Regions from separate parts of the Homo sapiens genome. Here regions 1 and 3 are each linked to region 2. Evidence: fine-mapped expression QTL. A gene starts in region 2. Each other region holds a variant in brackets. All regions are shown on one strand. Distances are between the middles of the regions. Region 1 overlaps GANAB (glucosidase II alpha subunit). Region 2 holds the start of BSCL2 (BSCL2 lipid droplet biogenesis associated, seipin). Region 3 overlaps TAF6L (TATA-box binding protein associated factor 6 like).

Region 1 (2,500 bases), 73 kb after region 2:
GTGGAGGTTGCAGTGAGCCAAGGTTGTGCCACTGTGCTCCAGCCTGGGCAACAGAGCGAGACTCCATCTCAAAAAAAAAAAAAAGAAGTACATCATTTTTCTTCATATTTGGAAAATCATTTTTTTTCCTATATGGAAAATGTTTTTTCAGTTCCATTTTTGAATAGTTCTCCTTTCCTCTCTCATCTGCTATGCCACCTCTTAGTATTTAGTACATTTAAAAAAGTAATAAGTGGCCAGGCACAGTGGCTCACGCCTGTAATCCCAGCACTTTGCGAGGCCGAGGTGGGTGGATCACCTGAGGTCAGGAGTTTGAGACCAGCCTCAACATGAAGAAACCCCATCTCTACTAAAAATACAAAATTAGCCAGGTGTGGTGGTGCATGCCTGTAATCCCAGCTATTTGGAGGCTGAGGCAGGAGAATTGCTTGAACCTGGGAGACGGAGGTTGCGGTGAGCCGAGATTGCGCCATTGCACTCCAGCCTGGGCAACAAGAGTGAAACTCCGTCTCAAAAAAAAAAAAGAAAAAAGTAATAAATATGCTTGGGTCTGTTTCTGGGCCCTTTGGTTCTGTTTATTAACTTGTCTATCCCTGCTCTGTTACCACACTGCCTATTTCTCTTAACAGGTAGATTTCCCCCGGTCTTCTAAAGTGTCATTACTCCTCTTGGCCCTTTGTACTTCCTTATATTTCTTTTGATATGTTTCCCAGGCTTTCTGTCTCTGGTCGTGATGAGAACAGTGTGGAGTTAACCATGGCTGAGGGACCCTACAAGATCATCTTGACAGCACGGCCATTCCGCCTTGACCTACTAGAGGACCGAAGTCTTTTGCTTAGTGTCAATGCCCGAGGACTCTTGGAGTTTGAGCATCAGAGGGCCCCTAGGGTCTCGTGAGTACAGGGGTTGGGACTGCAGGGAACCTAGTGTGAAAGAGCATAGGGGTGTTGTGAGGTCTGGCACGGGGAGGAGACGGTGGTGGGACAGCCAGGTAGGGCCTGGGGGCTGGGAGAAGCTCTCTGTCAGGGAGGGTAGGAACCAGACCCGGGTGCGGTTTTTTCCATTTCCTGTACAGACCAGGAGGCAGTCACTTTTGTCCCTGAGCTGTACCCTGGGCATCTCTGGGAGGCCTGCCTGGGTCTGTGTCTCCTTCTTCCCCTTCTCACATCATCACATTTCCCAGATTTATTTTCTTCGTTTTTATTTATTTATTTTTTTTGGTTTCTTTTTCCCCCCATCTCTGGAAGTTTGTCGACTGAAACTCACTTTTATGTTTCTGTTTTTGTGTTGGTTTTGTGCCTCTTTTTCCCCTTCCCTACCCATCTCCTCCTGCCCCAGTTTCTCGGATAAGGTTAATCTCACGCTTGGTAGCATATGGGATAAGATCAAGAACCTTTTCTCTAGGTAAATCCATGGCCACCGGTACTGTATCTGTTCCTCTGCCCTTACCCATTCCTCACTCTAGCCTT[T/C]GGGGGGAGGTGCCCCAGACCCTTCCAGCCTTTCACTCACCCCACTTTCCCCTGCTGTGTGATGTCTGGTCCTGTTACCTGTTACCCTGGCTGGGAGCCCCCAGAAGAAGGAAGGTGAGATACTGAAAGTCAGGTCCTTCGGGAATGTAGGGAGCTTATTGCTTTGCCAGGGGATGGAGAGATGCTGCCTATTGCTGGGGTTCCTGACTCTCAGCTGAGGGGCACCTGAGGTTCTGGGCAGAGCTACTTGCCCTTGAAAGCATTTTTTGGCAGAATCTCTTGAAGTCCCTATGTATGTCTGTAGAGGCTTGGTATAGTATGACCCACATGCCTTTGCAAAGCCATTGTGTCAGGCCAGGAGGCTGAGGCCCAGGGAGAGCACTTGGGGCCAGAATCTCTCAGTAGAGGCAACAGAGCCAGGATTGGCATTCATAACCCAGGCCCCTGAATCATTCTGCCTTTCTCTTCTGGGATGTTGACAGAGGCTGGTGTTCAGGCCTGTGCCTCCTGGTGGCACTTATTCCTCATTTTCCTTTCTCATTTCTCTCCCCATCCTTTGCAAACTTATCTGCTCATTGTGGGTTCCCTCTCCAAGCTTTAACATTTAGTCCCTTCCTCCAATGCCTTCGTTCCTTTGGACCCTTGGCTCTCTATTCCCCAACCCCTCCTTCCACTAGCCCCTCGTCCCTGCCCCCTCTGGATTGGAGCAGACAGCTCTCCTACCTTCCAGGCAAGGATCAAAAGACCCAGCTGAGGGCGATGGGGCCCAGCCTGAGGAAACACCCAGGGATGGCGACAAGGCAAGTTGGAGCGGGTGGGTGGTTGGAGGATAGGGCTGGCTGGGAGGGTGGAGGGGAGAGGCCCATGAGAAACTTGAACTTAGTCTCCCCATCAGGGATGGGATTTAGTTGATGGGAGCGGGGAAAGAGAGAACTGGTATGATTGGAGAGTGGTCCTCTTTTCTTCTTAACAGCCAGAGGAGACTCAGGGGAAGGCAGAGAAAGATGAGCCAGGAGCCTGGGAGGAGACAT
Region 2 (2,805 bases):
AGGGCCCAGGAGAGGGAAAAGGGAGGAGTTGTGAGAAGGGACAGGGGAGCTCAGAGGAGAGCACAGAAGAACTTCTTCTCCCGGAAGGGGTTCTCCGAAGTGGGCACAGGGGTGATGAGGGGATCCTCACAGGCGTGGGCATCACAGTAAGTCATCAGGTCTGCTGCTGCCTTGGACACCTGGGACACAGCCAGGAAGGGTATTGTTAGCCAGGACCTCTGAAGGGGACTGCAGCCTCCCTCCCCAAATGGGTTCTCTTTTGCCATCTCCAGGGCTCCTTACGACTTGTCTTCTCCCTCATCCCCCCCAGAGGCCTGGGGACAGCTCTCTCTACAGAGCCCCAGACTCCTCCCCTGACCTCAGGGAGTGAAGGAAAGAACGCATCTCTTATCTTGAGCTTTGGGAACCTGCAGCACAGCACAGCCTGGCCAACTAATGGGAGCCAGCCAGGGTCCCACCTACCTTTATCCGACACAAGCTGGCTTCAATCTTAAGCTGTTCCACCATCTTGCGTGCTTGCCCAATACTCATAGTGCTGTTCACCGGGGTCTCACCTTTCATCCTGGAAAAAAGAGGGACCTCTCAGAGCACAGTCTCAGCTGGAGGCCCCCCTCCATGCTCACTCCACACCAACCTTTACAAGGCTGTGGTCATACCCCAATATTTTGTTCCCCTCCTATCCTCCTCCTCCTCCTCCAGTGGACTGTCTCATCCCTGTATTCCTCATGGAAAAAAATAGGGTGGGATGAGGTGCTCCCCAAACTCCCTCATGGCCTGGGCCACAGATCATTAAACCTTACACAAATGATTTAAGGCTTTTCAGCCCTTCAAACCATGTGTGTTCCCAGCTCTGAAGACCTCAACCAACCCTGATGAGGAGGGCACATCACCCCTGTCTGCTCCAGTGAGCCCCAACAGGAGAAAAACAGGCCATTACTTACCTGAAGCCACAAGCGGCAGTAGCAGCCCTGGGTGTAGGGTCAGTGGAGGGTACCAAAACCTTCTGCCTGAAATGGGTGCCCCACCCAGTAGGGAGTTGCAGCTGAAAGTATCTGATGCAGAAGCAGTGACTATACGAAAGGAGGCCCCTGGGGAGGGCCAGGCCAGAGGTCTGGTCTCAGTTTCTGCAGCTCAAGCACTGTCTGGATGGCTGGTACCTGAAGGATGAAGGATGCTAGAAGGAGCTGCTCAGATCCTGGAGCATACCAACTGCCTGGCCAGTGGGGGAGCCTAGCTGCCTGCATCCCTGCGCACACCCCCACTGTCGCTAGTTCACTGCCTGCCCCTCCCCCATTGCAGGCATCCTGACTCTGGGCTAGAGACCTCCCCAACAGAGCTGAGGCCAAGGCCGACTCCCCCTCTCAAATGGCGTGGTCTGGGCCTATGACGGCCCCTGCAGTGGAGTCTGTACTGGCTGCGGGGGACCCTGCTCATTTGAAAATCTGACATCAGCTGGGCAGTCGCCCCCCTCCTCCTTTCCTCCCTCTACTCTGACACAGCACTTAGCACCTGAATCTTCGTTTCTCTCCCAGGGACCCTCCATTTTCCATATCCAGGAAAATGTGATGCGCCACAGGTATCAGCGTCTGGATCGCCACTTCACGTTTTAGCCACAAGTGACTCAGTGGAAGATCCAGAGTCAACAGAGGCTCGTCAGGAAGATGTCTACAGAAAAGGTAGACCAAAAGGAGGAAGCTGGGGAAAAAGAGGTGTGCGGAGACCAGATCAAAGGACCGGACAAAGAGGAGGTAGGGGCCCTTGTGGGGACAGTCAGCAGAAATATACTGGAAATAGGTGGGCTGGCGTGAAGGGGGCGGGGGGATGGATTGGTTTTAAGAATTTCATTCATTTTGAATAGATTACTTCCCACGCCCGCAGCAGTGTGCAAAGATGTACACAACACTGGCCTTGCCTCTGAAGGACTTTATCTGGGGTGATTAGACGTCTACAAAATAGAAGACTGCCAAAAGCTAGTCTAGATAATGTGCTGTGGGGACTCTGAGGGAGAGTGTATCCAGTTAGGGTCAGAGGAGGTCCACAATGCTACCACGCTGGGAACAGGGCACTAATCTGCCTGCGCAACAACGCAAGAGGCCCAGGTTGCCGCAAACTGCAACATGCTCTAGGCGAATGCCCCCGCCTTAGATGCCTACAGGTCCTAGGAGCTGTGGGCGATAAAAATCAGCGCCAGCTGGATGACCGCCTCACTCGGCCGCTTCGCGGGTGAAATGGCCTGTGGTGAAGGTGTGCACGGAGGGCTGTGATTGCAGTCTCAAGGGAGAGCCGAGCGGAGGCTGCAGTCAGCGCATCCCCTGGGGCACATCTTGGGGCCTGCAGGGAGGCAGGCGTCTTTCCCCTTTGGTCACGGTAACCGGAGGGAAACCTGCCGCAGAGAGAGCCAGTGGCGAGCGCAAGGAGACAGCGACCTCGCAGCTCGGGAAGGCTCCGCCCCGTCCCGCCCCGCCCCGCCGTGCTGGACCCCGCCCTGGGCTGAAGCCCCGCCTCCCACGGCTACAAAAGCGGCCGGCGGAGAGGGGCGGGACTTCCCCGGGAGCCGGAAGTCCCGTCTCACGGTTGCCCTGGCAGCGCGCGAGGCTGGTGAGTCGGCAGCCCTGTGGCAGCCGGCGGGCTGGTTTCCATGGTTGCACGATTAGGTAGGGGCTCCGGGCGCTTTGCCCACCCCCGAGCTGGAGGGGACTGGCGGGAAGCGGCGGTTGGCTGCAGGGCGCTCCGCCGGGCGTGGGGTGTAGCCGTGTCGGTGAGCGAGCTCTGCTCGAGGCGGAGAGGAGAAACTCGGGAAGCAAT
Region 3 (2,842 bases), 68 kb before region 2:
CTCTTTCGCCCAGGCTGGAATGCAGTGGCGTGATCTCGGCTCACTGCAACCTACGCCTTCCAGTTTCAAGCGATTCTCCTGCCTCAGCCTCCCAGGTAGTTGGGATTACAGGTGCCCACCACCACACCCAGCTAATTTTTGTGTTTTTTTGGTTGTTTTTTTTTTTGACATGGAGTCCTGCTCTGTCACCCAGGCTGGAGTACAGTGGCACAATCTCAGCTCACTGCAACCTCTGCCTCCCAGGTTCACGCGATTCTCCTGCCTCAGCATCCTGAGTAACTGGGGTTACAGGCGCCCACCGCCACGGCCAGCTAATTTTTGTATTTTTAGTAGAAACGAGGTTTCACCATGTTGGGCAGGTTGGTCTCAAACTCCTGACTTCGTGATCCGCCGGCCTCCACCTCCCAAAGTGCTGGGATTTTAGGTGTAAGCTCCTGTGCCCGGCCTTTTTTTTTTTTTTTTCTTTTTTTGAGACAGGGTCTTGCTCTGTTGCCCAGGCTGGAGTGCAATCTCAGCTCACCACAACCTCTGCCTGCTAGGTTCAAGCGATTCTCATGCCTCAGTTTCCTGACTAGATGGGATTACAGACATGTACCACCAGGCCCAGCTAATTTCTGTATTTTTAGTAAAGAAGGGGTTTCGCCATGTTGGCCAGGCTGGTCTTGAAGTCCTGGCCTCAAGTGATCCGCCCACCTCGGCCTCCCAAAGTGCTGGGATTACAGGCATGAGCCACCATGCCCGGCAGCGTTTGGTCTTAATGTCTCACCACATCGCCAGCCCTGAACTGGACATGGAAGTGGCCTCATGCCACCTGAGCCCTCTGTAGCCTGCACCCCACTCACCTCCACGCTGCTCCATCTGAGGGCCCTGTTGAAGTCCTCAACCGTCAGCTTCCGGCGTTTGGTGTGCTTCATGAACTGAGAGCTATTCTGGGAGGGAGGGAACAAAAGCCAGAGTCAAAGGATGTGAAGCAGGGGGCATGGGAAACCCCAAATGAAGTGGGCCAGACTGGAGAGAAGGCAAACAGGAGACCACGCTTAGGGATCAGAAGCCTAGATTCCGTCTCTGCTCCTGTACAAAAACACCCCCCGGGTGTCACATCTTCTGTCAACACCTCAGTTTCTCACATGCAGAATGTGAGTATCTACCCGCTCTGCCTGCCCAACAGGGCTGTTGTGAGGAGCACATGGGAAGATGCCTGGCAAGCGCTTTGTCTGCTGGAAGCCCAGACAGCTACAAGTAGAGTTCTGTAAAGGCATGGACTGTCTCTGTTGTATGGAGCAGGCACCCAGTGTACACTTGAATAAATCAGCGAGGGTGGAGGTTAGTAAAAAGGCAGAAACAAGGAAAGTTGGAGGTATCAGGGGGTGAGGGGAGTGTACCTGC[G/A]TGGCCTCTCTCAGACGATAGCACACGTCCTCTGCGAGCAGCGCCGCCACCTCATCGCTCAGCTCCAGGCCCGTGCTCTCCGCCATGAGCCGGACAGACTCCCGAGGGATCTCCACAAACCGCCGCTCTTCTCGCTCTGACATGGCCCCAGTGGAGCTGGGAGTGGAGAATGAAGACTGGAAAAGCTGCCCAGCCTCCCGGAGAGCCCAGGAGTGTGATCCAACACCCTCCACACCAGCCTTGCTGCTCGTGCTCTGGAGTTTCTAAACAAGGAGCTCTGAGTACCCAGATGAGGAAAGTGAGGCTCAGAGAAGGAAACAGACTGGCCAGTGGGTCAAGAACGGTGAAGCTAGACAAAGTCCAAAGTGTTGGGGTTCACAGAACTAGGTCCCATTCCTGCCCTGTCACCTTCTATGTGAATTTGGCCAAGGCCTTCATCAGTCTGAGCCCTTGTGTCCTAAACTGTAAAACAGGCACAATAATTCCTGCCCTCTCTAGCTCACAGGGTTGCTGTGAAAATGAGATGACTGATATGATTTGGCTGTGTCCCCGCACAAATCTCACCTTGAATTTTAATAATCCCCACGTGTCAAGAGCGGGACCAGGTGGAGATAACTGAATCAAGGGGACATTTTCCCCCATGCTGTTCTCCTGATAGTGAGTTCTCAAAAGATCTAATGGTTTTATAAAGAGCTTTTCCCCCTTTTGCTCGGCACTTCTCCTAGCTGCAGCCACATGAAGAAAGACATGTTTGCTTCCTCTTCCACCATGACTGTAAGTTTCCTGAGGCCTCCCCAGCATTGAGTCAGTTAAACCTCTTTCCTTTATACATTACCCAGTCTTTTCTTTTTTTTTTTTTTTTTTGAGACAGAGTCTCGCTCTGGCGCCAGGCTGGAGTGTAGCAGCGCGATCTCAGCTCACTGCAACCTCCGCCTCCCGGGTTCAAGTAATTATCTGCCTCAGCCTCCTGAGTAGCTGGGATTACAGGTACCTGCCACCACGCCCGGATGGCTAAATTTTTTTTTTTTTTTTTTTGAGACGGAGTTTTGTTCTTGTTGCCCCCAACTCTCCTGCCTCAGCCTCCCAAGTAGCTGGGATTACAGGCACGTGCCACCACGCCCAGCTAATTTTTGTATTTTTAGTAGAAACAAGATTTCGCCATGTTGGCCAGGCTGGATAGTAGCTGGGCTTTCTGCCTATGTGTTTGGTCTTCCCCAGTTTGGCTGCAGTGCCTAAATGCTGGAACCTGTTTTGTTCACAGGGTATAGCACAATAAGAAACCGACAAAAACAGCAGCTGATGACTCACTCCAACAACGCACAGCACCAGAAGGTAGGCTCCCGTGCGCCAAAGTGATGCATCCACACCTCAGACAGGAAGGCCCAGATCCAGGATGACCCACCCAGGCATTGCCCCCACTACTCCTCTGGCAGGGGATCAATGGGTCACCAGTGAC

The links. PIP is the estimated chance that this variant, and not a neighbour inherited with it, causes the effect. A credible set is the group of variants that fine-mapping cannot tell apart.
Region 1: its variant is the best candidate, but not a certain one, in a credible set for the expression of BSCL2 in whole blood (TOPMed, PIP 0.51).
Region 3: its variant is the best candidate, but not a certain one, in a credible set for the expression of BSCL2 in monocytes (Fairfax 2014, PIP 0.64).

The regions. Positions count from the first base shown.
Region 1 is chr11:62,633,214-62,635,713 of GRCh38, reverse strand. GANAB (glucosidase II alpha subunit) reads left to right here. Exons shown (of 24, transcript NM_198334.3): 5 at 714-893; 6 at 2,200-2,269; 7 at 2,443-2,500. Among named protein-coding and RNA genes, the nearest start is that of GANAB, 12 kb to the left of the region's middle. The variant T/C (reference allele first, on the strand shown) is at 1,470.
Region 2 is chr11:62,706,052-62,708,856 of GRCh38, reverse strand. BSCL2 (BSCL2 lipid droplet biogenesis associated, seipin) reads left to right here and starts at 1,433. Exons shown (of 11, transcript NM_001122955.4): 1 at 1,433-1,748. The coding sequence starts at 1,662. GNG3 (G protein subunit gamma 3) reads right to left here and starts at 1,181. Exons shown (of 3, transcript NM_012202.5): 1 at 942-1,181; 2 at 463-562; 3 at 1-179. The coding sequence starts at 561. The coding sequence ends at 51. It overlaps HNRNPUL2-BSCL2 (HNRNPUL2-BSCL2 readthrough (NMD candidate)), which reads left to right. Exons shown (of 24, transcript NR_037946.1): 14 at 1,533-1,748. RefSeq lists enhancers at 1-729, 2,049-2,722 and a silencer at 2,390-2,729.
Region 3 is chr11:62,774,471-62,777,312 of GRCh38, reverse strand. It overlaps TAF6L (TATA-box binding protein associated factor 6 like), which reads right to left. Exons shown (of 11, transcript NM_006473.4): 2 at 1,383-1,542; 3 at 843-929. The coding sequence starts at 1,529. It also overlaps a transcript of TMEM223 not described here. Among named protein-coding and RNA genes, the nearest start is that of TAF6L, 4.5 kb to the right of the region's middle. The variant G/A (reference allele first, on the strand shown) is at 1,387.